Linked DNA regions of Homo sapiens. The protein of the gene in region 2 interacts with the protein of the main gene of each other region in a biochemical or structural test. Each region holds a gene or a part of one and is shown on either strand. Other genes may lie near its edges. The genes, in order: SUMO3, PIAS2, PLAG1 and SNAI2.

What was found.
Region 1: the proteins of PIAS2 (region 2) and SUMO3 form a complex in vitro, tested with the Homo sapiens proteins (2 studies listed by BioGRID, with this or other methods).
Region 3: the proteins of PIAS2 (region 2) and PLAG1 form a complex in vitro, tested with the Homo sapiens proteins (one study listed by BioGRID).
Region 4: the proteins of PIAS2 (region 2) and SNAI2 form a complex in vitro, tested with the Homo sapiens proteins (one study listed by BioGRID).

What each region holds. Positions count from the first base shown.
Region 1 is NC_000021.9:44,808,035-44,815,521, forward strand, and holds part of SUMO3 (small ubiquitin-related modifier 3 isoform 1 precursor), read right to left. Parts: intron 6,071-7,487; coding exon 5,942-6,070; coding exon of another isoform or gene 5,828-5,941; intron 1,085-5,827; coding exon 1,013-1,084; intron 1-1,012. UniProt on the Homo sapiens protein: Ubiquitin-like protein which can be covalently attached to target lysines either as a monomer or as a lysine-linked polymer. Does not seem to be involved in protein degradation and may function as an antagonist of ubiquitin in the degradation process.
Region 2 is NC_000018.10:46,914,421-46,922,361, forward strand, and holds the start of PIAS2 (E3 SUMO-protein ligase PIAS2), read right to left. Parts: upstream 3,088-7,941; 5' UTR 2,926-3,087; coding exon 2,902-2,925; intron 1-2,901. UniProt on the Homo sapiens protein: Functions as an E3-type small ubiquitin-like modifier (SUMO) ligase, stabilizing the interaction between UBE2I and the substrate, and as a SUMO-tethering factor.
Region 3 is NC_000008.11:56,208,093-56,215,952, forward strand, and holds the start of PLAG1 (zinc finger protein PLAG1), read right to left. Parts: upstream 3,182-7,860; 5' UTR 3,029-3,181; intron 1-3,028. Other genes in the region: CHCHD7 (coiled-coil-helix-coiled-coil-helix domain-containing protein 7), read left to right, coding at 4,759-4,817, 6,506-6,575. UniProt on the Homo sapiens protein: Transcription factor whose activation results in up-regulation of target genes, such as IGFII, leading to uncontrolled cell proliferation: when overexpressed in cultured cells, higher proliferation rate and transformation are observed.
Region 4 is NC_000008.11:48,918,114-48,925,587, forward strand, and holds the start of SNAI2 (zinc finger protein SNAI2), read right to left. Parts: upstream 3,317-7,474; 5' UTR 3,153-3,316; coding exon 3,074-3,152; intron 2,329-3,073; coding exon 1,783-2,328; intron 876-1,782; coding exon 694-875; 3' UTR 1-693. UniProt on the Homo sapiens protein: Transcriptional repressor that modulates both activator-dependent and basal transcription. Involved in the generation and migration of neural crest cells.

The DNA.
Region 1 (7,487 bases), on a different chromosome or scaffold from region 2:
TGCAAAAATATTTCCACATAAAACATTCCAGTGGATTCTCACAACATTGAAAGGGAGAAAAAGCAGGTATTGGTTCCATTTATGGACAGACAAAACTGAGACTCCACAAGATGAAGTGATGCTTGGTCACGGGGCCATCAGCTGACAAATGACAAGAGCTGCAACTTGAACCAAGTTTAAAAAAAAACTCTGTTTCGGCCGGGCGCGTTGGCTCATGCCTTTAATCCCAGCACTTTGGGGGGCTGAGGTGGGCAGATCACAAGGTCAGGAGATCGAGACCATCCTGGCTAACATGGTGAAACCCCGTCTCTACTAAAAATACAAAAAAATTAGCCGGGAGTGGTGGTGGGCACCTATAGTCCCAGCTACTTGGGAGGCTGAGGCAGGAGAATGGCGTGAACTCAGGAGGCAGAGCTTGCACAGTGAGCTGAGACTGCGCCACTGCATTCTAGCCTGGGCAACAAAGCGAGACTCCGTCTCAAAAAAAAAAGTCTGTTTCCAGGTCCAAAGCTCTTTCCATGACAGTATGATGCCCTGCAACGTGATAGATGAAATCTCATTCATGTCTGCATGTGCCTGAGAGAAACGAGCTGTGCAGACTGATAATCAGGGGTTATGGCACATTCTGCCCACCCACGTCACTTGTGCAAGATGCTTAAAGGGCACAAGAATCCAGCTGGCCCCTAAGCTGCACACGGGCTACAACAGCAAGCGTCCAGACAATGAGTGGGAAGGGGCCGCTGAGTGGTCCTTGCACCCCCGCTTCCCTTACAGTGAGGACGGGCCCAGCACTTGGCTCCATCTCCAAACAGCAAGAATGATGTCTGCAAAGCAGTTTTCTCATTTGAAAATTTAAATTTAAAATGTGAAAAATAAATAATCTAATAATCAATATCATTAAGGCATTCTGTATGAGCTCCCACCTACAATTCTCAAATAAGCGTATCCCAAATGGCAGTTACCCCGCACAAATCGGAAGTCGCCCTGGAACCACGCGAAGCCAGCTCCGTACCTGTGCTGGAGTGTCAGTTTCATTGATTGGCTGCCCGTCGAACCTGAATCTGATCTGCCTCATTGACAAGCCCTGGAAAGGAAAAGCAGTGGCCATTAGTCTCACTGGCAAGCCCTGGAAAGGAAAAGCAGTGGCCATTAGTCTCACTGACAAGCCCTGGAGAGGAAAAGCAGTGGCCATTAAACATTTCCAGATACGGCTTAATTCAAAAACCAAATATTTTAATCCAAGTATCAGCATTCTGATATGCAGATTTATGATCCAGCTCAGTATTAAAAACTCACCAGTGGGCCTACAATCTCTTTCACGCGGTGCCTGACACCACTGCTTTCAGAACCCACTCTTCTACCATCTTCTCTCTGATGAGCTAAAACGGCTCATTTTCAACCCAGGTTTTGTTACACCATTGCATACTGGGAACTTCTTAAAGCCAAACCAGTGGCAGTTCAGTTTCAAAGCAGATAGGTAAGTGGTCCATGGCAGAAGGAAAGCCGACTTACATTCAAACACCAGAACACAAGAGACGTCCTAGACTAACATCCAAACTCATGTACCTCTAAAATCCACCCTTTCTTTACATACGAAACCCAGGTGAGGAAGCGTAACACGTCACAGTGACGCTAGCTCAGACAGCTGTCAGCCAGGAGGTCTCTGAGGAGCAGGAGAAAAGCTGGACTAGCATTGGTGATGTGCCAGGGGAGGGGAAATGAGCCGCCAGGTGAATACTAACCTTCCAGTGGCTAGCTTTTCAATCAAAGTTTCTCAGTGCAGTGGCCGTGTGGAATGGTCAATTCAAACACTGAATCTTCTCTGTCCTGGTGCCCTGACCTGTCCTGGGTCATCCCTCCCATCTTTCCAGAAGCCGAGTAGAACTTCTACAATGCTGGCACCACTACTTCCCCCCTTTACAAAGTTCTCAGCAAGGAACAGGTTGTGTGCCAATGAGGGACAGATAAGAAGGCTGCATGAGGCCGGGGAGCAGTTACCACCATGACTTTGGCCTTGAGGAGGGCAGCAGGAAGGAGAGCACGCAGCCTTTCTGCGTCCTGAGGGAATGGAGAAATGTGGTCAGGGGCAGAAACATTTCCTCAACGAGCAGTTTTGATTTAACTGAAACAGGACAGACGGGGTTAAAACGTGCATCTCTGCTCCCTCCTGAAACCCCACTGAAATGAAGTAAATGAAAAAGGCACAAACAGGAAGGACAAAGAAAACGGGAGTGGGGATGGGCAGATATGTCAATGCTGGGCTGAGCCAGAGGCTACTGAGGCGTGGACACTGGTGGTCTGATGGACACTGGACCAGGATCCTAGGGCGGAGGGACTGGGCACGCCCCAACCTGTGAGGCAGAGCTGTGGCAGGCAGCTGATTCTGAACAGCTGCCTGGAAGTTCACATGCAGACCCCTCAGGCAGGACCCCCACAACCCTGTGCCTCCCACGGCAGCACACATGAGATGTGCTTTCTGAGAAGGTGGGTGCGGAGCTCCAGGCGCAGGGCGGAAACAGGCCCACGAAAGCGCGTGCCCTCAACACTGTGCGCCAAGTCCCCTCTCCCCTCCAGATGCGCCTCCAGGAGGCTGGCCGGAGCCTGGAGGACTCAACTCTCAAACTGTAGCATCTGGGCGCCTCCAGAACCTGCAATCCAGACAGATCACCCCATGTGGATGCACAGCCCTGGCAGCACAGCCATCCATGTACACAGCTTTTCAGCAGCTTCTCGGTGCTCCATGCTTGCACAGAAGTCAGCCTGCGTGAGAGCAGTCAGGGAAAGGCTCACTGTGCAGCAGCCTAGAGAGGAGGGGAGGAGCGCAGAGGAGAACGGACAGGAAGGAGGCAGGAGAACACTCCCAACACAGGCACACACATGCCCACACCCACACATGCCCACACCCACACACATGCACACACCCACACATGCACACCCATGCACACACCCATGCACACACCCACACATGCACACACCCACATATGCACACACGCACACACCCACATACACACACGCACACACCCACACATACACACACACGAATGCACACATGCACACACCCACATACACACACATGCACACACCCACATATACACACAGGCACACACCCACACATACACACACAGGCACACACCCACACATACACACACATGCACAAAGACACGGACATACACACCACACACACCTACACTCACGATTCAAATTCTATGGGAAGTAAAAAATACTACTACCTTCAGAAAACAATCAATTGCTACTGAGGATGGGTGCGGTGGCTCACACCTGTAATCCCAGCACTTTGGGAGACCGAGGCAGAAGGATCACTTAAGCCCAGGAATTCCAGACCAGCCTGGACCACATAAGGAGACCCCATCTCCACAAAATAAAAAAATGAGCCAGGCGTGGTGGCGTGTACCTGGAGTCCCACCTACTCGGGAGGCTGAGGTGGGAGGATCACTTGAGCCCCAGGGCTCAAGGCTGCAGTGAACCATGATCACACCACTGCGCTCCAGCTTGGGGGACAGAGTGAGACCCTGTCTCAAAAAAAATAAGTTGCTACTGAGAAAAAAAGAACACTCAAAGAACAGAAAGAAAAAAGAACTTTTGGAAATTAAAAATCATGACAGAGATGAGAATGTCCACAGGAAGTGGAAAGATAAAGTTGAAATGACCTCCCGGAAAGAAGCCCAAATGCAACAATAAAGCCCAAAGCAAAATGGGAGAAAAATTATCAAATTTAAAATATCTAGGACAATGAGCAGCAGGAGGAACAGGAACTCCAAAAAGAGGGAACAGAGTCTGGAGAAGGATACAAATTATCAGAGAACTAACATAAGGCATATTTCCTGAATAAAAATAAACGTCCAGACCCATAAAGTGCCCAGCAGCATGAGTGAGAAAATCACCCACCTCTGAGGCACATAAGGAAACACTGAATGCCAGAATATGGTCCCAGATACTTCCAGGGAAAAACCAAGTTACAAACAAAGCACAGAGAATCAGAATCCACTGAACTTCTCACCTTTTTTTTTTTTTTTTTTTTTTTGAGACAGGGTCTTGCTCTGTCACCCAGGCTGGAGCAGTGATATGACCTCAGCTCCCTGCAGCCTCCACCTCCTGGGCTCAAACAATCCTCCCACCTCAGCCTCCTGAGTAGCTGGGACTATAGGCTTGCACCACCACACCTGGCTAATTTTTTTAATGTTTCGTAGAGACAGGGTCTCCCTGTGTTGCCCAGGCTTGGCACTGAACTCCTGACCTCAAGTCTTGAATTCCTGACCTCAAGTGATCCTCCCACATCAGCCTCCCAAAGTGCTGGGATTACAGGCATAAGCCACCATGCCTGGTGAACTTTTCACTTTTAACATTGGGAGCTATTCTCATGGCTGACCTCTGAAATAAAAAAGAAAAAAAAGTTTCAACCGAGAATATTACGTGCAGCCACATACTGAAGTGTGAAGGTTTATAAAAGCAAAAGTCACGTTCAGCCATGCAGTGTCTCAAAGACGCTGCCCTTCTGTGCCCGTTCTGACAAGACCCTGGAGGATGTGCTCCACCACAAAACACAAAAGGGAGGAGGACTAATCCAGGAAACACCCAAGAGAGAACCCAAGTTTCTAGAAGGATTTGAACAGGAGGCCCTGGACCACGGCTGAGCAGCCAGCCTCACAAGCAGCAGTGCAGGTGGGGCAGGAGGGGAGCTCCGGGAGAGCAGGGGGAAGGGCAGAGCCCCCCCCACATGTACACGGCCCCACACGCCTGCCATCCCGCAGCGCAGAGGAGAACATGGGCACCCGGGAAGTCACACACACAGTGGCCACGAGCCCAGGCAGTACAAACTCCAGCAAGGGCCAGGGCCCAGCATCAGGCAGAGGCTGGATCACGGGGCCTACACGGCGCCAGGCCACTCACTCTGCTGGGAAGACCGGGACCTGCGTGTCTGGAAGCTCAGTCTCACCTTTCGCAGGTGAAAATAAGATCTGCCCTCAGCAAACACAAAGAAAGGAAGTCAGGGGCTGCTTGCCAATAAAGAATGCAAGGCAGTCGCCAGTGACTGCCCCTATGAGCAGGGTATCCAAAGTGGGAGGGAAAGAGGAGGAAATCTAACTGAAAATCCACAGGCAAAAGAGTAAAATAAAAGGGCAACGAGTTGCTGTATTTTCAAAGCGGCTGAAGAAAAGCAGCCTCTAGGTCCCACTCAGGCAAGCAGGGCTCCCTGGGGAAGGGCGCCTGGCTGCAGGGCCGGGCCCCCAACACACCAGGCAGCAGCTGGTGGGCAAAGCCCATAAAAGTGGCCTAGAGAGGGACCCCCTGGCCCAGGGTGAGTCCGCCACAGCGTTACCAAGAACAACAGACACACACACACCACGTCACAAACAGCAGCCAGAAGGCATCCACCCAGCTGGGCACTGCCAGTGGGGCAGCTCATTATCCTGAAACTGGGGAAGAAGGGGAAAGAATCACGCGCTTTCTTGCCTTTCCTAACAAAATGGAAAACCACACCGCACATGAGGGCAGTGTCTCTCCAGGGTCAGGCCAGCTCATACGCGAGGACAGGGTGACAGCGGCGTGGGGCACACGCCACCTGCAGCCCCAGAATGGCCAGACCTGAGCAGGGCCCCCAAGAGCCTTCAGCATCACAGACTTCACAGATGTTAGTACCCCATGGAGAACACAGCACCCCGGGCAGCCGCCCTGTCAGGAAGAAAAACCCACCACACTTCTCCGAGCCTCTAGGTCCCTCCACCTTATAAAAGGCCATGGGGGACAAGCCCAGCCTGGACTAATTTTACAGCACAAGCCCCCGCCTGCCCATCCACGAAGAGGGCACCTCGGGCAGCTGCATCTGGGTCCAGCCCCGAGACGCTCGTGCTCTGGGGATGCCTGGAACGCACAGGACCAGTGCGCACACGGGGAGGCTCTGCGGGGGAGCAAGGTGCCGCACCTGCCTCTCGCAGTAGGCCTTCATCAGCTTGCTCAGCGGCGTGTGCCTCTTGATCTTGAACTGCACCACGGAGCCGTCCTGCCCGGCCACCTTCAGGTTGATGTGGTCATTCTCTGTCTTCACACCCTCCTGCAGAAGACACCAGAGACTGGCCTCAAAACTGTGTCTCAAAATAACCGCGACTTGAATGGGCAAGTCTTTAGGTAATTGTTGGCTTTTTAAAGTCATCAAAACCAACCTAATTCTTAAAATTCTCCAGCAATTCAGAGTCACTCGTGATGGTTTTATTTTTACACAGAATTTATTTTTAACTTCCACTTGTTAAGCATCCATGTGTAAAACAATGCAAGCCTAGGGTCCTCTGACATTGTTAATTCAAAGAAAAAAACAAAGTCTAGGGAAAAATAAGAGAAAATCCATCTTTATTTTAAAGTTATTCTTGTGGGCTGGGCACAGTGGCTCACACCTGTTATCCCAGTACTTTGGGAGTTGACGTGGGAGGATGGCGTAAGCCCAGGAGTTTGAGACCAGTCTGGGCAACAGAGCAAGACCCCATCTCTTTTTTAAAAAATTCTTATGAAACCAGTAAAAACACATATCCAAAAGTCATGCAGCTATACAGCACTAGTAAAAGAAACCAAAAACAGAAGAAAACATTTGTGACTCAGAGGAACCCTATGGGACATTCAAGTGGTGATTTCGGGAATCCAACTGAGGACGGCCACTCCCCACAGCAGGCGGCCAGGCTCCTTCTCGCTGCCCTGACATCAGCAAATGTGAGGGAAGCCACCTCCGAGTACTTTCTGGTTTCAAACTGTCCTATCTGAGCGGCAGTAGGTGGTACTATTTTATTTTTTAATTCATGCCATACTTGAAGCTACTCAACAATGGCACAATCGGGGTGTCTTGTTGCCTGAAAATGCATTTTGAGTTGAGGCAAAAAGCTGATGTCAAGAGACTGGGAGCCAACTTCGGGGCAGCTCAGTCTGAGCCGAAAAGTGGGGCACCCCTCTGCCGGCCTGCACTGCTGGGATAAAGTCGTTTGTGAGTGAAGCAATGAGGCAGGGCCCTCCGGCTCACTCTGAAAGTCAAGTCTGGGGCGTCCTGGTACCCTTTCACCCCATGCTGAGCTGCTGCCCTCAGGAAGCACTGTACATCACACGCCTGTTCTCTCCACTTCTCCTTTCCTTCCCTGGCTGGGAGAGGGACAACTGTCCCAGCGATGCCTAAATACAGGGAGTGGGATGTAGAAGGCTCGCCTGAGGGTGAACCCAGGGACTGCACCCATGCTTGCTTCCCTGGGGTATGCACCCTGGGGAGACCCTGGGGAGGCATGGTGCTCTGTCAAGGGAGCTAGAGTGGCCTGCAAGGGGCCTTGGCAGTGAGGGGCTCCAGCTGCGAGCCTGAAGGTGCGTGTCCTGGGGCGGCACTCACCCCCCGACTCCAGTCTTGGGCCAGACACCCCTGCCCACTCCCGGGATGCCAGTGGCTTGGCGGCAGCCTGAGTGGTGAGCTGGCACACCCCCATCTCCCCATCCCGAATGTG
Region 2 (7,941 bases):
TGAAAGGCAACAAGGTATAGAGCTGCCATATTCTGCTATGACCAGCCAAGATCTCTGGTACTGGCTCACGCAGCAGTCTCCAAAACTGAAATAGTCAGGCGACCCCCTTAACAGTTGCCTAATCGAATAACCAACCCTCCCCCCCCCAACTCCACCCCCGACACACAAGTCTGAAAAGCAAAGGCACCAGGGTCACCAAACCACACTGAGGATTACCTTTCCCAAAATTCCCTATCTCCAGTATAGATGCAGCACTAGCCAGGATATGAACTGCTCTGGTTATACTTGTCCAAAATGAGTAGCCTTGAAGGGTAATGGAAATCCTCTCTGTGGCATATCAGCAGCCAAATATGTGGCATCCAGATCGGCTGACCAATTTCTCTACTGCCAAGAAGTTAGCCAACAAACTAATGCCCAAAATTTTTCCTGGTCCTATAATTTACTTGAGCATCACTCTGACCACCACAATATATTCTGATCCAAGGACCATCATTTTGAGAATCCAAGATTATTTCTTCCCCTTTTCTTTCTTTCTATTCCGTTTTTTAGTCTGTTTTTCTTCCTTTATTATAATGTCACACAAGAAGGATGTTACCAATCATTTAATTTAGGAGCAATCGCAGGATGATGGCTAGAAGCTCCACCTAGACCCCAAGGTACCAGAACAAAGTAGTGTAGCCCGGGCTCTGAAAAGCCCAGACTCTAAAAGCTACATGTCTAAGATTAAAAATCTTAGCTTTTCAAATCTCAAGCTGTGTGATTTAGGTCAGGTTAACCTCTCTGTGCTTCAATTTCTTGAAAAAATTGTGAGAATTAAATAAGTATAGAAAAAATGCTTAGACCAGAACCAGGCATGGAATAACCACTATATTAAAATGGGTATATACCATCATCATCATTACTGTCTGTAATGGGATGTAAGGGCGGGGTACAGTTCATCTTCAAGTGTAGGGTAACATGGGTCTGCACAGAGCAGTTAAGGCAAAGAAAAGCAGATGATGCTTACTGCATGTGCCCAGCCTGCACCCCTCACTCCTCTGAAAATTCTCCCCAGTTAGTCTCTGTTGGGCACGTCATATGAATTGTGGGAGAGGGGCCATCTTCTAAAAATGCAAGAAGTAAAGACAGCTGATTTACAGGAAAAGAGGATGAAGCTGATCCACAAACCAAAACAGAGAGGAAGGCAGAAAGGAAGAGAAAAAAAAGCTTCTTTGGTTTCTATCACTTTCCAGTTGCTGGTTGCACTCCAATCTGAGCACTGACTGCTTTTACTCTGCTCTATAAGAGCGAGTAAATTCTTCGCTTTACATTAAGCTTTGGCCAACAACATTCACAAGAGTCTAATAAAAATCCTGGAAAGTTTTCATTAACAAAAAAAAAAAAAAGAACTTAGAAAACTTGTATACATCTGTTACTACACAAAAATTAAAAATGGCAGGTAAAAATAAATATAACTTCAGAGTTCAGTCTTCTCAACCCATCCTAAATCTAACGCATGAATTTACAGAGGTGAGGTTCAGGGTTCGTTGTTTGAAAAGCTCCACAGGTGTTAAAAGCTCTACAGCTGGGGCTCTGAGCCACTAAAACCCTTAAACTTATCAAGTATGAACACCCTTTACCTACACTTATGGTTCTCTGCATAAACTAGTATGGGGCATAACATGTATTAATATGTGTTTACTGGGAACTTAATAATTATTTTTGAAACAGCAGGAGGGAATATGGCAGGCACTGTGCAAACTCCAACAATCTCCGTTTAGAGCAGAGGATACGTTCTTTTGCTCACGTCCACTAAGCAGGTAACCAGCCAACATCCTTCCCCCATCCCATCTCTTGCGGAAAACAATAAATATACAAAACTGAACCTTTTACCGGATTCCTCTTCCTTATTTGAAAAAGAAATCCTAATATCATAAGTGTTACACAAACGAGTTGCAGTAAATGTAATTTCAAGTTTACACTCATCTCTACCTTGATACATTTAAAAAAAAAAAAAATCAGGGTTTCTGTCCGTAAACATCTCATTTATGTCGCCAGTAATTCAGCGATACACACAAATCCATCTCATTCGTCACACTTAGTTAGGACTTTAAAGGTTATCAGTCTGGGGGGAAAAAGTCTCTTCTGTTCTACCCCCATCACAGCCCTATTCCAGACCTCTGCTATACAAGGGTATCAACAATAAAGTTATGATCTTGTTTTAAGACTGAGAAGAAAAAAATATTTTTCCTCAAGAGTAAAAGGGGTGCACAAACCTCACAACATAGACTTTGCAGATTTCTTACTAAAACACTAAGAAAATATCGAGGTTTAAGGCCGATTATTGAAGGCAGGGATCCCCAAACATTAGGTTCCTCGAAGATGTTAGGAGGCAAGGGTGGGAGAAGGGGCCTTTTCTCGTGACAGACCTGACTAAACGGTAGCATCAGCCATAAGAAGAGGAGAGATTCCTAAACGCAACTTCAGCTTTCAGAAAACAGTCCTCCACCAAGTGAGTAGCATGCAGACTTGTGAATAGCCACAGACACGTACACCCCGGTGAAGGTGCAAGATCAAACGTTGCTTCCCACATCGGCCCTCACTGCGAACCGGGATGTCGGGTCCCCATGTGCCCCTCCTGGAGGGCGCCCCGACCCCCCGCGCCAGGTGTGCGGACCACTGGCAGCACTCAGGAGCCGGCTCGCCGCGGCCCAGGCCCGCCGCCCCCGCGCCGCCCGCGTGCCCTCCGCCGGCCCGCTCCCCTCCCCCGCGCCCTCGGCGCCCGTTCGTCCGCGGGCCGGGGCTCAGGGCTCCGCCAACCGGCCCCAGAGGCACGAGCAGGCGGCGGCCGGCGACGTTGCGGTTTCCCCACCTCCTCTCCCATCCCCTCCCCCGCGGCCTCCGCTCTCCACTCCCGCTTACCCTCAACTCTTCGAAATCCGCCATTTTATACCACCCGCGGGCGCCGCCGCCGCTGCCGCCGCACCCACTCCCGCTGCCGCCAACGACGCTGCCGCCACCACGGCCGCCGCCGCCTCCAGCACCATCCTGCACTGGGCGCCGCTTAAGACGCCGCGGCCGCCGCCGCTACAGCCGGGCCCGTCACGTGAACGGCGCGGGAGCTCCGCCTCCGACGCGCCGAAGCCCCGCCCCTAGCGGTGCCCCCTGCCCACCCGCGCGACCGCCTTCCGCCCGCGCCTTCAGTCCGCGCGGCGACAGCGCCCGCCCGCGCCTGCCCCGGCGTGCTGCCCCGCGGCTTGGCCCCGCTCGGCCCCAGGTCGTGCCTTCCCTCCCCGGCGGAGGCCCCTGCGGACTGCCTAGAGCTGGGTCGCAACTGAGGCGTTATCCGCGGGCCTGGCCTCGGGAAGTGGCGGGGAGGAAGAAGAGGCGGCCGGGACGCGTGACAGGAGCATTCGGGAAGATTCTTACGGTGCCCTTCACGCGGTGCCTATGGACGGAGAAAGCCGCCGCAAATAAAACCATCCCCCAGAGTAGTTGTGGCGGAATAATCTAAATATGGGTGTTGGGTAAGCTATTGTTCCCATCTAATGGTGAGGTTGTGTGACACCTCTTTGAATTGCTAATGTCCTGCAAGTACCAACCTTGCCGAGTTTTTCTGACCTTGAAGGGCACCTGAAGGTCACGGACTGCAGAGTTGGGAGAGTTAGGCGGTGGGGTTGGGGGCGGGGAGAAGTGAAATAAGAGCGCTCAGAAGGGCCATGCTAAAAAGTCGGGGAAATCTGATAGCTAGGAAGGAGTCAAACGCCAAGGCAGAGTAAGTAGATAGAAGGAAGCTTGATGGCCCCCCCGTAATGTGCTGATATAGGATGAAGGAAGATGCTGAGTCAAGATGGCCAGAAAAATCGCTGGACGGTGTCCAGGGTTCAATTTCCTTGAAGAATTGGGTGGAACCCACACACGAGAGGTCTTTAAAACAATGTAACTTTTAAGGCCCTGTTTAATCAGCCTCCTACCTACCGCCTCTTCCCACTACCCCTCGTTTCATCCGCACTGCACTTCCAGGTCTTCCTTCCACTCCCCTGCCCCCGCACCCCGCAAGTTTTGTTTTTTTGAGACGGAGTTTTGCTCTTGTTGCCCAGGCTGGAGTGCAATGGCACGATCTCGGCTCACCGCAATGTCTGCCTCCCGGGTTCAAGCGATTCTCCTACCTCCGCCTCCCGAGTAGCTGCGATTGTATTTTTGGTAGAAACGAGGTTTCTCCAAGTTGGTCAGGCTGGTCTCCAACTCCGGACCTCAGGTGATCCGCCCGCCTCGGCCTCCCAAAGTACTGAGATTACAGGCGTGAGCCACTGCACCCGGCCTCCCCTCAAGTTTTAAGGCTTCTAAATGTTGATCCTTGAACCAAGAATAATTTCCCACTCTCTTCTTTGTTCCTAACTCCTGTTCATCCTTCAGGTTTCACTTTAAGTGTCACTTCCTCAGGAAGACCATCCCTCACCCACATCCCACATTTTAATTCAAATTCCCCTGTTATGACCTCTCCTAGGACCCTGAACTTTTTCTTCCTGAGATGTCTCCATGGTAATTATGTAGGTATTTGTGTAATTGTTTATTTGATATATATGTGTGTGCGTGTATATATATATATGTGTGTGTGTGTGTGTGTGTGTGTTGTGTATATATACACAACACACACACATATTGTTTTGGCCAGGTGCAGTGGCTCATGCCTGTAATCCCAGCACTTTAGGAAGCCGAGGCAGGTGGATCACTTGAGGTCGGGAGTTGCAGACCAGCCAGGCCAACATGGTGAAACCCTGTCTCTACTAAAAATACAAAAATTAGGCCAGGAGCTGTGGCCCACGCTCTAAATTCCAGCACTTTGGGAGGCAGAGGCGGGCGGATCACCTGAGGTTGGGAGTTGGAGGCCAGCCTGACCAACATGGAGAAACCCCGTCTCCACCAAAAATGCAAAATTAGCCAGGCGTGGTGGCGCATTCCTGTAATCCCAGCTACTCCGGAGACTAAGGCAGGAGAATCGCTTGAACCCTGGAGGCGGAGGTTCCAGGGAGCGGAGATAGCGCCATTGCACTCCAGCCTGGGCAACAAAAGCGAAACTCCATCTCAAAAAAAAAAAAATTAGCCGGGTGTGGTGGCACATGCCTGTAATCCCAGCTACTCGTGAGGCTGAGACAGGAAAATTGCTTGAACCCAGGAGGTGGAGGTTGCAGTGAGCTGCGATCGCACCATTGCACTCCAGCCTGGGCAACAGAGTGAGACTTTGTCTCAAAAAATAAAAATTATTATTTTAAAATTTTATGTTAAAAAATTGTAAACCCACTAGACTATAATGGCTGATAAATGCCTAACAAATAGTTGGCCTTGTATTTGTTTAATGAATAAAGGAATGAATGAACAATGTCCAGGTTCTAAATCTGTCTCTCCACCATTAACTTTGTGATCTTCGCTTGGCTTATTCTTACTCTTGATTTATTCTCCGTAGACCTTGATTTACACCTCAGTAGAATTTAACATTGTTTAGTAGGCTTTAAGTGAATGCCACTGTGGGAGGAGTTTTCGGGGAATAGACGAATAGAGTACAATACAGCCCTGCCACAGAGGAGCTTACACCCATAAAGAGGACCAACATAAACACAAAACAGTAAGAAAAGAAAAGCAAAGCCCCACTGAAACTTACGTGCAGTGTTCTTTGTAGTTGCTTCCCAGCATTCATTCTGCCCCTTCCTCAATGTGTAGCAGCTCCTGGATGGGTTGGGTAGGTTTGACTGCAAAGAGTTCTAGGTGCTGCCCTAGACTGGCCTGAGTCATTAAGGACTGTTATGTCATTCTGGCCACAGTATTAGATCACAACTGGGCATATAAATCTGATTAGTACTGAGCATTTATAGGCTTTGCCAAGTAGATCAAGTGTGGACCCGTGCCCTAAGGTAGGCTAATCAGAGGGAAGCCTAGGACATTTATTCAGTGATTAGAGATAAGACTTTCTGGCATGTGGAACACTCGCCATTTTGCTACAGTGAAGAGCCAACCTGAGAACCAACCCTTCTTGTGAGCAGAAAAATCACACACACACAAAATCTCAGCATTGACTTTGATACTCACTCTGCCTCTGTACTGGCCAGTTTTCTTGAGCCAATGCCTTTCTTGTAAGGTTTTAGATTGTTTGAGTTGAGATTTCTATTAGTTGCAATAGAAAGAATTCTGAAATAGGGTGCTACTTTGTCTCACCAGACCAGATTATTAATTTGGCATTTTTTCTAATCTATACTCCCCAATAATCATTCAATATATGTTCAAAGGAATGGCTGAGTGGTAAAGGGTAGAAAGGGCATGTTTCTCTTCACTGTTGTGATCATTTCTGCTCTGGTCTAGATTTATATATCCTCATTAAAAAGAAATCCCTGCACTTACTTGAATCCAACTTCCTTATAACATAGTAATGTGGTATACCCTTAAAGGGGAGTGGAGAAGGAGGGAGGTGCAGTAATCTTATCACTCACAAAAGGCCACATATCAAAGTACCAGTGCCAGCCACATGCTGAACTCTTCTACCAGAGGAATTCTATTAAATATATCCTTTTTCTTTATTACATTTCCAATGGTAAAATGTTTTAGTGCTCTTTATGGATTGAATCTCCAGGCAATTACCTGACTAGGCTACCGTCTTAAAATGGCTCCAAATTAGAAGATTCATTATAAGTACTGTGATTAAAGTGTCCTAAGTTTTTTTGTTTGTTTGTTTTTTGTTTCTGTTTTTGCTTTTTGGGACGGAGTCTCGCTCTGTTGCCCAGTCTGGAGTGCAGTGGCACGATCTCGGCTCACTGCAACCTCTGCCCCCCCGAATTTAAGCAATTCTCTGCCTCAGCCTCCCAAGTAGCTGGGATTACAGGCACCCGCCACCATGCCCAGCTAATTTTTGTACTTTTAGTAGAGATGGGGTTTCACCGTCTTGGTCAGGCTAGTCTTGAACTCCTGACCTCGTGATCCACCTGCCTTGGCCTCCCAAAGTGCTGGGATTACAGGCATGAGCTACTGCGCCTGGCATAAAGTGTCATAAGATTTTAATACACGAAGTCAAAAATCTCAGGAGTAGCTTTTCCATTTACTAGCTGTGTAACTTTAGCAAAGTCTCAACTTAATTTTTCTAATCTGGAAAAGAAAAATGACTACACCTATCTCAGGATGAGATACCTGATCTGATAGATCAGGTGTATGAGTGTACTCTGTAAATTTATAAAGTGAAAGATGGTAAATTTTTTGTATCTAAACAGCTAAGCTGATTTTGAATCTAAACAGCTGATAAACACATAACAAAAAAAAAAAAGCACTTCATTAAGAAACATAATTAAGAACCATATGATATATCCTAGTAATTTTAGCAAAGAGCATTCCAACCTGGTTGGACCAACCATGTAACCTTGAGTTTAGTTCCAAGCACCTGTCTTCTTAATCCTTTCACATCTGTCTCTGAACCCATTAGACTTTACTGATTTTAATATCTCTCTTTTCCTTCCCACTGATTACTTCCTCTCTCCCTATAACAGTGCTCAGGCCTCCCAGATGTTTTCCAAGCCACTTTACTTCTTTTGCTAAGCATATATCTATTTATATCACATTTCCTAACTCCTACACACTTTGCCAATACTGTCTTAGTCTTAGACTTTACCAAAACTAGTATCAAGGAAACTGAACAAGGAATTAAAAAAAAATTTTTCCTCACTTTTTTTTTTTTTTTTTGAGACAGGGTCTCACTCTGTCGCCCAGGCTAGAGTGCAGTGGCATGATCACAGCTCACTGCAACCTTCACCTCCCAGCTCAAGCAGTCTTCGTACCTCAGCCTCCCAAGTAGCTGGGACCACGGGCACACCACCACTCTCAGCTAATTTTTGTATCTTTTGTAGAGACAGGGTTTCACCATGTTGCCCAGGCTGTTTCAAACTCCTGGATTTAAATGATCCTCCCACCTTGGCCTCCCAAAGT
Region 3 (7,860 bases), on a different chromosome or scaffold from region 2:
TATTGATATTAGTATCTGGTTTGTCAAAGTGGCAATTATTCAAGATCTAAGTCTCATTTATTTTAAATGCACAGCATAATTCTGACTACTTATAGTCAATGTAACTGTCTTGAGCCAAAATACAATGAAAACGTAAGATAAAATGAAAAGGCTTTGTAAGTCTTAATGGCATTCTGAAACCTCTGGACAGAAGATCATTGGGCATGGAGGAGTTTCCCTTCTCTATTGATAGCTTAATCCTTTTCCAATCAATTTTGATTTAACTGTGGGTGATGAGATTAATCTTTTAATGAGTTCTTAGAAAGTTGTAATTGCTTCCAAAATCAGAAACCACAAGATGATGTACTCAAACACGTTACTGATGTGATGTTGTATAGAGGTATTTACAGAAAGTTGGAAGAACTCAGTTGTAAACACAAGTTAACATACAATAGACTACAAAAATAATAACTTGTTTATACAGTAGGGCAAGAAAAAACATTCTATATAAGAAGTCTAAAAATTCAGCTCTAATTTTAATCCATGTCTATAAATAATAAAAACAAGAGGAAATAAGGATTTATTTCAGAAACTCCATATACCTGTGGAAAATGGAACACAAGTAATTTCTACTGAAGATTAACCTTAATCCCCATTATAGTACAGCTAACAATTTACACATTTTAAATTTTGAAAATATCGTGGAAATCTAAAACATAAGAGCCGATAGTAGTTTATGGTCAGTAAACACTTTCTGTTAAATAACACAAATAAATTCAACTTAGAAAATGAAAACTCACAGGGCTCAGGATTTTAAAAATCTTTTCATTTCAAAGGCGCAAAGTTACAACCCATGCATAGGATGGACTTTAAAAATGGATGTGTAAACTTTTCCATGGTGTTGGTGTGTGTGCTTTCCTTCCCCCTAAAGAAATGCCTACTGCTTACAATTTTAAAGAATCTTCACCACTCTGTAATTTTCAACCAGAAGTCCTCAATGTACCTTAAGCCAAATTGAATATTAAGGTATTTTACAGTTTTTACAAAATGGCTGTAAAATCACATTATGGGCATACACAGCTCTTTGATCTCACTGCACAGAATTCATAACTGTTCAATAATGCTATACCATTACACCACACACCTTAAACTATTTCCATTTTTCCACAATTCCTTCCAAAATCAGCTTCCAAAGCAAAGCAATGTAACATGAAAAGTTCCTGGGAGGGCTTGTTACACAAAGGAACAGTTTGGATACAAACTATACACATATCCATCTTCGGTTGAGGCTGTTTATCCCTCCTGTCCCTCCATCACTCCTATGGGTGGGTGCACTGGAGTAACAGAAAGGGAAGGCTCTTCCATCACCACACCCTCCCAGCACCTCTGCTTTTGGTCCTCAGACAGTGATTCTGTGTAGGTGATGAAAACCATAAGAAAAGAGAAGCTGTCCCTTTAAAATGCCCTGCTCTGTCCCATATCCCACGTGGAACCAACATCAGCAGCACTTTCCCATTAACATCAATGTGATGCAAGAGACATCATCCTTTTATACACATAAAACCAGAAAACCTCAGCTTAACATTCTTTAGGAAGGATGAACAGGTGAAGCAAACATGTCAGGAAGGGGGAAACCAAGCAACTCCACATCCCTCCCCAAAAGGTACTCCAGCCTTGCACTCCAGCCTCTCTGAGCACCATCACCTCTCTATCCCTCCTCTGCAGAGCCCAGTTTAAAGAAAGGAGGGAGCCACTAACAAAACCTGAAGCATAAATGCGACGAAAATGCAATCTAAAGCCGGAAAGGTTCATTCTTCCAATCACACATATTAACTCTATTAAGAAAATGGCATCACTTTTTTTTCCACCCAAAAAAACCCCGCAAAGATCATTAAAAGAGAGTTATAAAATAGCAAATATAGTGTTTATCTTATCTGAGATCAGTCCACATTACCAATAAGTTTAGCAGTTTCTGCACTACCACCTCCCCCCTCGCTCCCCCTGCTTCTCTTGCATCGGATTTTCACGTTTTCTCATTGTCGGTTGAGTTATAAAAGGCTTTTGCCCTTCGAAAGTTTTAAAAAATAAATAAATATTAACTCCTTGGTCCCTGCAAAGTCAAAATGGACTTCAGGGGAAAGGCGGTACATACTTTTACCTTTAGCGAGAAAAGGGGGAGCATCCCGGATTTTTAGGGATTTTTTGCGATTTTTTAAAAATTTTTATTTGGTTATATGCCTGAGTTCTCCCTCCATTTTGGTTGTTTATGATACTGACAACAAGCTGTCCCTGCTCTGTGCCGATCTCCTGCTTTCATTTAGCACCCCCTCCCCCTACCCCCCCTCGCAGCCACACACCCCGGGCTCACACCTCCCTGCAGACCCCGCACCCCGACCCCGGCTTGCCCACCTGAGGAAAGGGCAAAAACAAATTCATTTCTCCAGAAAAGAAAAACCTCTTTTGAAAAAGGGGCAAAGTTACCCCAAGTCACTCAAAGTGCCCCCCAAATATTGCCGACTGCGGGTTTCCGCCAGGCCCTTTGGGAAGCGACCTTCCCCCGGGATGTTTTGGTGGAAAATGCGGAGAGTTTACTCTCAAAACTGAATTTATATTAATTTTTCCCTTATTTTTCGGGTCTCTAATGTCTTCCGCTCTCGCTGCTGCCGCTGCCGCTGTCACAATATTCACAGCACCAGAGAGGAGGAGGAGGAGGAGGAGGAGGAAAACTTTTCAAACTTTCCAGACCCTGAATAAAGGTTTTTTTTTTTTTCCCACCGACCTCACCTTCGGGTCCCCAGCCGCATCGCCCCCTGCCCTGTCAGAAGCGACTTCGGGAGTCCTCGCAGCCCCGCGTAATTATTTTATTTTATTTTTTATTATTATTTTTCTCTCTGGGGTCCTGAGCAGGGGCTGAGAGTAGCACAAACTTTTCCTCCTCCTGCCGCCGCCGCTGCTCCTCTGCCCCCTCGGCTAGTCCCATAATTTAAATAACCCTGATATTTCTCCCGCTAAACGCCTCGCCGCCGCCCCGGACCCCCGGAGAACTCACCGCGGGGCTTTAACATCCTCCCTCCGGCCCGTCCGCCGCCTCTACACCGCCCGCGGAATTTCTAATAATTTTTTTCTCATATTTCGGGCTGGACGCGGCGGGCCTGGAAATTGTTTCCTTACGCCTCTTTCCAGCAGCCATTGTAGTGTATGCGCTGCCCCTGCAGCCCAACTTGCAGCTGCCGCCGCCGCCGCCGCCGCCGCCGCCGACGTCGCGCCCACCGCTGCCTCCCCCTGCCTGTTCGGCCACCGCCCCCGCCTCCCGTCGGCCCGCCCCCAAACCCCGCCCGCCGCTGCGCCCGCCCCCCGCGCGCGCTCCGCCCGAGAGCTGGCCACTCGGAGCCGCCGCTGGCGGGAGTTGGCCCGCCCATTGGGCCGCGACGCCGCCCGTCAAGCCGAAGTGTTAAGAGACGGGCCGCGGCTGGGGGGCGCGGTGGGGCGGGGGAAGAGGGGGCGGGGTCGCGCTCACCGCCCCGCCCACTCCTCCCGCCTCGGCCCTCCTTTCGCCAGGCGGGGGCGGGGCGAGGCCCGACCGCCCCTGCGGCCCAGGGCCCCGCGCGGCTGTCAGTCTGGCGGCGGCGCGCGCCGATTGGGCGGGCTGCCGCCGGGGAGCGGGGGCAGCAAGTTGGGATGCGCGCTACTTAAGGTCCTGCTGCGTGAGCCATTGACGTGTTTGGAGCTGGAGACGGCCTGGGTGCTGGCGAAGCGGAGGCCGGAGGTGAGTGGTTCCCCCGCCCTACCTCCGAAGCGGCCGCAGAAAAGCGGGGAGAGAGGGGTGCCCTTGGGCCGTAGCGGGGCCCGAATGCACTTCTGCGGCGCGGAGGCGCTCCCGCCAGGCTTCGCCGCAGCGCGGACCTCTTCCCGTTGCTCTTCCTCCCGCCACACGGGTCTGTTCGCTCCGGGGGCGAGGAAGATGACCTCTGCCTAGTCCGGGCAACCCCAGCTCTTCTTCCACTCTCCTGTGTAGCCTCTGAAGCGCAGTTACCGGCCCCACCCCCAGTTCCCTGCGTTTTCCTCGCCCCTTGTCTCTCTCGGCATGGTCTCGGCACAGCAAGGTGTGTTCACCTGTGCGCGCCGTCCAGGATCAGATGCTGACGGGCTACACCGCGGAAGGCGGCGAGGCCTCGGGTTCGCCCTTCGTTTCTCCTTGCCCTGCGCGCCCACCTCCGGCAGGCCACCCTTGACTTCTTGCCCCCTTCCACTTTGCACCTGGCAGTGGGTTAACGGCACGGCGTGTGCAGCTTCCGGGTTTAGCAGAGCCGCGGACCCTGCCTGGGCTCCGACCACGGGGCGTGTGGGCATGAACGTGTTCAGAAACGTTTCCTTCCCCCTGCCCTTTCAAAGCTACTTAGAGAGGGGGGACGTGAACCACTGGATGGGAAATCAGGAACTGCTTTATTAAGCAGTTTGCCCTTTGGAGTGGATTTTAGAGTTATCCCCTGAATGTGCTATGGTTTTGTGGCCCCTCCTTCATATCTTTGCTTGGTTTTTCTTTCTGGTTATGCTCTGCAAGTAGTAGAGCCTTGTAACATTTATTTAGTACATTCAAAAAGTAATAGACAAGGCCCCTTTAGCGGAGCACTCGATGTTGTAATTCAGCCCCGCTCCTCACTGTAAATTGACATTTCCTCTTCAATTCCAGTTAATACACGAGGAACTCATGCAAAGGAGGGGACTTTCGGAAATCCAAACTTAGAGTGCCTTGTATTTAGAATCCGGAAGGAAAAGGAAATGAAATGTGAAGAAACTCATGCACCAAACTCGAACTGGGTATATGTGATGTTACCTAGGTATTATTTTTGAAGAATTTCTGACTGACAATAAAATATAGAGTAGGATACTTTCATGTAAGGCACGAAACTTAAATTTAATGCAAGGTTGTCTGATCCTTGTTGAGATTATTAAATCTAAGGTGTATGAAGAGTTCTGTGTTCTCACATCATAGGATAGGTGTAAAAAAGAAAGCTGTGAATTTATTTACTATCATCATCTCTCTTAGGAAGAAGGGAAGTGTGGAAAAAAATTGTCTTCAGGAGAGGAAGAAGCTTGTAGATATAATTGAACAGCATCTTGATTTCTTTTTTGCCAAGATGTTACTGTTGGCTGGTTATTTTCTTGTATTGTTCAATGAAAATCATAAAATTATTATTCAGTGATTACTTAATGGACACCAGAATAACCAAACCCTTTTCCATTCTTTTTTTTGCAAAGGCTGGTCTCCTTTGGCCTGGACGTCCTGATCTTTCCCATAGTAGAACTGGGCTGGGTGTCTCTTTTTTTTTTTTTTGAGACGGCGTCTTCCACTGCTGTCGCTTGGGCTGGAGTGCAGTGGCGCGATCTCGGCTCACTGCAACCTCTGCTTCCCAAGTTCAGGCGATTCTCTTGCCTCAGCCTCCTGAGTAGTTGGGATTACAGGCGCGTGCCACCACGCTCAGCTAATTTTTGTATTTTTAGTAGACAGGGGGTTTCACCATGTTGGCCAGGCTGGTCTTGAACTCCTGACCTCGTGATCCGCCCGACTCGGCCTCCTAAACTTTTGCAAAGCTGTATCTCTAGGAATTGAATTGGAAGATTACTGAAGCACAGTAGCATTCCCTGACTTCCTGCAACGCAGGGAAATAGTTAAAAAGAAGATGCCACTGGAAGTAAAATTTCAACTCTTTTGTTTTTGAAACAGTATAGCTTTTCATAATGTCAACTAAGCAATAACTTGGCTTTTTGGTGTGTTGGCTACCCTACTATTGGCCATAAAATAGGCACTCTGGTACTTCAGTTGATGAATGTTTTTGCTAAAGTTGGACTGTACCGAATTTCATTCTTATTTTGTACGCTAATTGGTGTAAAATAAGGAAGTAATTGTTGGAATGCATACTGTATTCTTAGGTTTTATTAGTACATTTGGTTGCTTAAACTTAAGAATAAGAGTAAACAACAACTGAATTATAATTGAACTATCTTTCTTTTTCGTTTTTTTGAGACAGGGTCTCTCTCTGTCACCCAGGCTGGAGTGCACTGGTGCAATCACAGCTCTCTGCAGCCTTGACTTCCTGGGCTATCCCACCTTACTTAGCCTTCCAAGTAGCTGGGACCACAGGCACACGGCACGACACCAGGCTAATTTTTGTATTTTTGGTAGAAATGGGGTTTCTCTGTGTCGCCTAGGTTGATCTCGAACTGCTGAGCTTAAGCAGCCCTCTCGCTCCAGCCTCCCAAAGTGCTGGGATTACAGGCGTGAGACACCGCACCCAGCCAGTAGATGCATTTCAATCCAATATATGGCCTTTGTGTTGAGGCATGGCAATACAAAGGAAAAACACGTTCAAGTTTTTATTCACAAAGTACAGAGAATACATGAAGTTCCTCACTAAGTGATCATTATGCCAAAATCAAAATTTCAGGTACTTTTAGTGCTATTGAGATGTATTGATTTATTTTCTGTCAACTACTGTATAATTATTTTTTTTCTGTCTACCCTCAGTAAGAAGACTGTTAGAATGCCCTCGGTAACACAGAGGCTGAGAGATCCTGACATAAATCCTTGTTTGTCGGTAGGATGGTTTGCTTTAATTTTCATGAGTGTTAAGTTGGAAAAACAGGCTGCTCTAGTTTTGTGGGCCTTTGTTTTCTGCAGTTGTTGAATAAAGTTATTTCTCTAGAAAAAATATTGTTGGCCAGCATATCCTATTTAACTAGAGCATTTTTAGATGTTTATAATTTCTCTAACAAACATTCATCTTTTCTTTAGTTTTCCTTATTTGTATAATATGCAAGCATTTGGTTGTCACTGTAAAACTAGACAGGAAAATGTAACACTGAGAATATTTAGTCCAAACATGGAAAACTGGAAGGTATGATATTTTTAAACTGTCACTGACATTTATTGTTTCACTAGCAATAATATCACCATGTCCTTGACAACCTGGCTGAGAGTAATGGGCTGATAATATAATTAGCCTATTTAAAGCTTAAAGGTTTTCACAAAGGTATCTGATAAACAAAATGTTTTAAGAGTAAGCTTTTATTGGCATTTATTTGGTATGATTTGCGATACTTACTTGTGGCTTTGCTACGTTTGAATAATGTAGTTATCATACTGGTCCCATGAAAATTATACTCTTTAGTTATATGCATTTTCCAAATATATACATTCATTAAATATTTGGCACAGAAATTCAGCTTTGTTCTGTTTACGTAGAACATGTTTCTTAGATATGTGTTGCAAACTGTCTACCCATATAGCTAAAGCTTTCCTTTAGATCTGTGTTCCCCAACCTTTTGGGCACCAAGGACCGGTTTTGTGGAAGACAATTTTTCCACGGATGGGGAAGGGGGCGGGCGTCAAAAGGCATTAGATTCTCCTAAGGAGCTTGCAGCCTAGATCCCTCACATGCACGCAGTTCACAATAGGGTTCGTGATATTAGATCCCACAATAGGGATCTAATAGCATTAGATGAGAATCTAATGCTGCCACTGATGTGACAGGAAGGGGAGCTCAGGCGGTAAGGCTCACTTGCCCATTGCTCATCTCCTGCTATCTGGCCGGGTTCCTAACAGACCGAAGACCAGTACCACTTTGTGGCCTGGGGGTTGGGGACCCCTGCTTTAGGTGACCTCACAGAATCATACCTTTCACTTTTAAGTTTGTTATTCAATCTACTTCCAGTTCACACAGCTTAAATTTAATCCCCATGTGGCACCTACTTTCCTTTGAATTTATAGCTTGTGTTGTTGACTTCGGTTTTGAAGTAATATCTATTAAAATTGCTTATATAATAGTGTATTTGTATAATGGAGTAAATGGTAGCCAAAAATGCATTGAGATGAATGGTGTT
Region 4 (7,474 bases), on a different chromosome or scaffold from region 2:
TGGAGCATGCGCCAGGAATGTTCAAAGCTAATCTTTCCCTCCTCCCCCAAGGCACATACTGTTAATTGGCAAAAACAAAACAAAACAAAAATACTTTTAATACATTCTCCTGTGTTTTGTTCTTGTTATTTTTTTCCTCCCTTTTAAAAATATACTTTAAAGCACTACAGGTAATCAAAAAAAGGCTTTAGTTCAACAATGGCAACCAGACAACCGACATGTAATGGAGTAAACTTGGAATACTTTTTAAGGCACCTGAGTTCGCGTCTGGCAGATCTCTTCCTATGGGAAATCCTATTACAGACTCTATTACAAAGCAATACTGTTCTTTTCAGTTGAAATGATTTGGCAGCAATGTAAATCTTTGCATTTTTTTAGGAAGAAAAGATGCAATGTGCTTTTCATTTTATCTTTGAAGAGAAAGGTTACTGTCTTTTATTCTCTCAATCTAGCCATCAGCAAATATATAGTAATTTTAAACTTCACATGGAAAGGATTATCTTTAAACACATGAATTCCATGCTCTTGCAGCTCTCTCTCTGTGGGTGTGTGTGTGTGTGTGTGCATATGTGTGTGTGTCTATACATATTATTTGGTTGGTCAGCACAGGAGAAAATGCCTTTGGACTTTATTTGTCATTTGGCTTCGGAGTGAAGAAATGCATTCTGTTCGAGTAAACATTGATTGCGTCACTCAGTGTGCTACACAGCAGCCAGATTCCTCATGTTTGTGCAGGAGAGACATTCTGGAGAAGGTTTTGGAGCAGTTTTTGCACTGGTATTTCTTTACATCAGAATGGGTCTGCAGATGAGCCCTCAGATTTGACCTGTCTGCAAATGCTCTGTTGCAGTGAGGGCAAGAAAAAGGCTTCTCCCCTGGGGGTGGAGTGGGAGAAAAAAAGAAAGACAGTCAGTGTTTTTAGAGGAAACATAAAGTAAAATCATGTTAACAAAAGTCAATCACATTTTGCTTAAATAATGAGAAGCAGCAAAACCTGATTAAAATCCCTCATAATAGACACTTTTAAAAATACCTGAATTTTTAAGATAAACTTGAATATTGCATTTAAAAATCATACACGAATATTATTACTGCTGCCAATCATACAGAAATAATTTACGTAGTTCTTGGACTTTCACTTCTTAAAGCTTTCTGCTTTAGCAGATGCAGCTAATGTTGAGCACCTCCCAACATTTCCCAATATTTCCCCTTTTCCCTCTTTCTGTACTATGATTAAGGTGGTCTAAGTGCCATGATACCCTGCAGAATAATTCTGTGATACGAATAAGAAATTAAGGAGCAAAAAATCCCCAAACAAAGCAAGAGAGGCAAAGTAAATTTAGTTTCAACTATCCAAGTCACCCACGGGTGACAAATATCAGAGCAAGAATGTAACTAACAGAAAACTGTAGGAAAAGCCTTCATCTATTAACCAAATCAATTGATTAAGATAGCAACATTTGTATTTGCTGATTACTGGGGGCAGTTTCACAGAACACACATTCAAGCACATCTTTCCTGATTTTCTAACTGATCTTTGAGACCAAACCTTCTGAATCTACTTTCCAAAGTCTACATGCTGTTTGCAGTCCCTGGAGCAGAGGTTGTTAGCAAGAAATGGAGCACTTTGTGCCCTAACAACTTTTTGAGTAGTCAGGAAGTAGCTATCAATGACTGTCCATCATTAAAAGCACTATGTCACAACTTCATGCAAATCCAACAGCCAGCCCAGGGCTTCATTGTATCTCAGAGTAACATTCCTGCCTATGGTTTTTCTCTTACCCGTGTGAGTTCTAATGTGTCCTTGAAGCAACCAGGGTCTGGAAAACGCCTTGCCGCAGATCTTGCAAACACAAGGTAATGTGTGGGTCCGAATATGCATCTTCAGGGCGCCCAGGCTCACATATTCCTTGTCACAGTATTTACAGCTGAAAGATTTTCTAGACTGGGCATCGCAGTGCAGCTGCTTATGTTTGGCCAGCCCAGAAAAAGTTGAATAGGTCTTATTGCATAAATTGCACTGAAACTTTTCAGCTTCAATGGCATGGGGGTCTGAAAGCTTGGACTGTAGTCTTTCCTCTTCATCACTAATGGGGCTTTCTGAGCCACTGTGGTCCTTGGAGGAGGTGTCAGATGGAGGAGGGGGACTCACTCGCCCCAAAGATGAGGAGTATCCGGAAAGAGGAGAGAGGCCATTGGGTAGCTGGGCGTGGAATGGAGCAGCGGTAGTCCACACAGTGATGGGGCTGTATGCTCCTGAGCTGAGGATCTCTGGTTGTGGTATGACAGGCATGGAGTAACTCTCATAGAGATACGGGGAAATAATCACTGGGAAAGAAAAGGGAGGGAGAGAAGATTAAGGCAAAAATAATTAAAAATAAATCCACACGCAAGTATACACACACTGGAAAGATATTTAGCAACACACACGTGATTTTCTTAGGAAGAAGATAGACCCATTTAGGAGGGCATACACACTGGTAAAATGTTTCATTTCCACCCTGGCACCTACGGAGTTACTGTACTTAATGCACACATAGGCTGACAGCTGCACGGAGCTATAGGTGCTCTGAAGTCAGACAGTGCAGCCAAGCCAGTGCCTTCGCCGTCCCCATTGAGGAAGGAGAGCCTCAACATTATTTTTAAACATACAGAAAAGTTGTTTTCCATGTTACGTATGGGCTATTTAGGTGTATTACGACCGTGAGTACAAAGATATGCCTGCATCAAGCCGCCTTCTAAAGGAAAGGAGACTTAGTGCATGAAAAACGCAGTAATTCAATCCTTATGTTGCTCATCTTTCACATACTCATTATGCATGTATACACAGGCTTTAGCAAACGAAGCTGCGAGATTTGAATGAAATGTTCCTTGTTAGTCAAGAATTTTAAAAGTTTTGAATTAAAACGAACCCTAAATGATCAAAAGAATGTAAGCTCCCTTTCAGGACACTGTTAAAAAGGAAAACAGTTGAATCTTTGGCTCTTTTGTAATGGTATTTGAAGGGTAATACGTAGATTCATATTTGCAAAGCTCTAGATACGTAGTTCTAGATATATTTTTCTCTTTTTACCTGTATGTGTGTCCAGTTCGCTGTAGTTTGGCTTTTTGGAGGCGTTGAAATGCTTCTTGACCAGGAAGGAGCGCGGCATCTTGCCAGCGGGTCTGGCGGGCGCCCGGCGCGGATAACGGTCCGGCGGGAGGACACGGCGGTCCCTACAGCATCGCGGCGGGCCAGGCTCGGGCAGGGGCCGTGCTCAGGTGCGGCAGACGGACGGGCCGGCGCCTCTGAAGTCACCCGGCTCCTTTACGAACTGAGCCCGTTTTGGCTGGGAGGGTTTTTTTTTCCTCTCTTTTGCAAGAAAGATCCAATCACAGCTGAGAGGTTCAGATTTCAGCTCCTCCCTCTGGGACAGCTGTGAACAGAGGAAGAATCTGTTGTCAGACTAAATTATTCTGGTTCAAAATGGGCTGTTTTTTGAGATTTCAGTGGAGAGGAAAAAAAGTGTTTAAGTATTTTCAAGAGAGGTAACCTCGCTCGGTGAGCCCCGCCCGCGATCCACGCTCTCTGGGAGCTAGGAGGGGCGCAGGAGCCGGGGTCTCTGCCCTGCCCGCCTGGCTTCCAGATGTGGTGCAGCGCCAGCGCGCGGGGACACAGTGTCCGCCAGGAGAAGGAAGGGCCGCCCTGCACCACACCAGGCCAGCCTCTGGTGTTAATGAGAGCCTATATTTGGAAGTGGCATCTGGAGAGGTTTGCCTTGCACAAAGACCAAATAATTACCTCTTGGCTTTTGAAAAAGGAAGGGGGAAGCGGGAAGACAAAGGCGCCTGTGAGCGCGGAGGACGCTCTCCTGGGACTCTGGCCTGGAGCGGGACTGCAGCCTTGCGTGCGGCGAGGGCGCTGCGCTACTCAGGGCTTCCGCGAAGCCAGGGGCAGCGCGGCCGCGTGCAAATTAAGTACTCATGTCACCGTGTTAGCTATGGTGGCTTGAAAGAAATGCTTTGTAGCCCTCTAAAGGCAGGCTGATCGGAAGAACTGGAAGATTGCAAAGATAAAAAGGAACTCTGGCAGAGAAGGGGGGCAAGAGGTAACTGTCATTTGGAACCACCGGACATTCTCTCACACTTTTGACAAGAGATCTTATCTTTTCATGTATTACAGTGCATCTTTTTTTTTATGGGAAAAAGGGTTGTATGGGTCTTTAGAGACAATTATTTTTATTTCTAATATTCCCCTGCTTTTATGTGGTGCTATTTTCATCAGTATAAAGCCATTAAAATCCATCTCAGTATCTACCAGTTTCCTGTATAATGCTAAAAAAGAAATTGAAGGATATTATTATGAATATAGATTGATTAAAGTTTTAAGAACCCAGTCTAGTAACTGCAAAAACACCTTTATTTTGTGTATGGTCTTCAATCTAAAAATACTTTCAGGTGGTTTATTTTAAATATAAAATTTCAAGCATATTTTAAAGCATCTCTGTCCATTGCAGACTTTTATCCCTATCTTTTGCTAAAAGAATAAGGAAAGAACAAATTCACATGAAGATCACCCTACTCTTGTTTCTAACAGGTGCTGGAGGAAAAAAGTGAAAAAGAAAATAACAGTGGTGATGTCAAGACTTGTCAGAGAAAAGTGCATTGTCAGGTTGCATAACTTCTTAATCTTGGAATGAGAAAACAAGAGTGTATGTGTGTTTGGAGGGTGAGGTGGGGCACTCACAGATTTCCTAAGCTAATTTCAATGATTATTCTTATTTCTTCCAACAGTCACTAATTTAAATGTCAAACAGAGAAAATAATTCAAAGGAATCCTTATGCTAATGGAACTGTACTTGCAGGAGAGAGGAAAATATGAATACATATTCGATTTCTCCACACACAAACTGGAACCTGGAGTAAAAGCCAGAGGCAGTTTTCTAAGCTTGCTACTCTATGTGAGGGTTTGTTCGGATGTAGGCACCTGGGTTTATGAGAGCAGGAGTCCTCCTTGCTTTTCACTCCATTTCCCACAAAACACACATTTTTGTTACAGATATAGCACAGTTGAGAAAACACATATCGCCATGGCTATTATTTCCTTGTTTCACTCTACACAGTCTATTCACAACAAAGAAGAGTGTTAGACAATGTTTTGGTATTTATTTGCTGGTAGTTATAACACAAGATCATCTACTAAAATGTGTATTCAAAAATCCATTTACAACGTTTAATAATAATTCACTATGCATGAAAAAAGCTTACATTTGGATCACAGAGGCATAATCCAGCCCAGCCCCATCAGCAGGTATCCGAGGGTGCACTGCACAGATCGGCGTCAGGACGTGCGGCCACACCTACTGTGAGGAGAGGATGGGGCTCGGGTCTGTGCATGGGGCATGTCATTACACAGATCCGCGTGCTAGCGAGTAACACGTATGCCCGTGTGAGGTCTGGGCCGCTGTCAGAGCAGGGCGAGTCTGCGCGCTGATGGCGTGAGTCAGACGAAACAGGTGCTCTGCTCAGACACAGCGGAGGGCATGTGGCGCCAGCACCATGTGGTAAAAACGCAAGCCGGGAAGTCAAGGCCACACCCAAAGGCCAGCTGCTGGGACTCTGCTAAGACAAGACAGAGGTTTCCTTTCCTTCTGCCAGCCAGAGGGCTCATCTGGAGGGGTTGGCTTTGGTCGTTGACAAAAAGACTTTCTCTTGCCCAGGGACAGAAATCTTTGTGGAGGCAACTGCACCAGATTTTAAAGCTTTCATTCTGGAATCCAATAGAAGTCAAATCAATGACTGAGGGGGAAAAATGGAACAAGCAAACCCAAGTGGGTTTGCTAATCCAAGGATTCAGTCCTAGGTTGGTGAGAAATTGGTGCTCCATAATTAGGCTGATTGGGTTTATCAGCCTAATTTATTTCATAACAATTAAATAAATGGTGCTTGTTCTTAGAGCCACGTGGACACAGCCCAGCCAGGGTGAAGCCAGTGGGCACGGGTAAGACAAAAGGAAGGCACAAGCTCTGCTCTTAGGCTCTTGAGAGTTTAATGTAGTGTAGGGAGAAAAAAGGAACTCTGGAGGCCATAGTGAGGCTTAAAAAATAATCCTTCCTAGGCTTGAGCCACACTGGCGAGACTCCATGGCATGGGTTGTGCGGGTTGCCTGGCACCCCAGACACCCGTATAATCTAATTCCTTAATTGCCATGATGTGATTTGATGTGACGTACCTGACAGGCTCTCATTTTCTCTGTTTTCTGAAGAAGCTGACCAAGATAACTTGTGGAAAACTTTGTAAGTTAAAGATCTGGGCCAGCCTTCCCCACAGGCTCCCTGGATGGGTGGGGTTTCTCCCGGAGCCAGTTTTCTTCATGAAAGACACATTCTTGCCCTGCCAAGTAGGGGAATAAATTAGATCCGTGAGGTTTGGGAACGCACCTTGGGTTTCTTTACTTTGCGTGGAGATTTGTACACATTTAGGTATTTAGGTGTGTAAAAAGCAGTGCAAGTATTGACTACCATGTTTAGGAAATGGAGTAGTAAATCTAGCACCAGAAGAAACCAGAGTGTGGCATAGGCTGAAAAATCCCATTTTATGCTGTGTCCTATCTCCTAAAATGAAAGGCATCTCTTTCTAAGTTTGGTGTGTGGTATGATCACTCTGGAGGGGGTTCATATCTCCTCAATTCATATGCATATTCATATCCCTTGAAAAATATGAAGTGATGAAATATCATGAGTTTGGCTGTGCTATCTGGAGAATATTATAATACATTAGTAATTTTAAAAATCTATTTACATAGAAACAAAGCATTTATTAAATATAACTTTGAAGTTTGAATGACAAGGGTGTGATGCCATTTTGTGGGTTTTTAACATACACATATCTGTATGTAAAAGGATTTAGGAAGAAATATTCCTAAATTTCCTTTTGGAAAATTGTCAGAGCGGGCATGGGATTCTGCTTATATATTCTGAGCTCCACAATAAGGAGAACCTCTTTTCTCAAAGGGAATGGATGGCACTCGCCTATGCACTCCACATATGTAAGTATATGTGCTTGGTGATGTCAACAGGGCCAAATATGAGCATGAACACACCTTTGTGTGAGCACTCACATGTCTGAATGTTGGGAAAATAATAGCCAAAAATGGTGTCAGGATGTCCCTCTGCTGTTTAGGAGTTTCCATTATTTCCTGCGTGTTCCCAGTGTCATGTTCAGCAGGCCAATAGCCACTAGGCATCTGCGTCTGTCTGGAGTTAGTGCTAATGCCAATAGCTCAATAAGTACCATCACATATGATCAGTAAATATTTAAGATCACTCCAAACAGAAAACCCTTAACTTGGGAACAGCATTTTAATGAAATCTGCTTTCTGCCAAGTCACTTGTGTTCAGAATCTTATTCCTAGTTATGTTTGTATGATCTCATTTCCCTTTGGGTGGATAGAATATGGTTAAGTGCATCATGAAAAGTAAGAGATATTCATCTC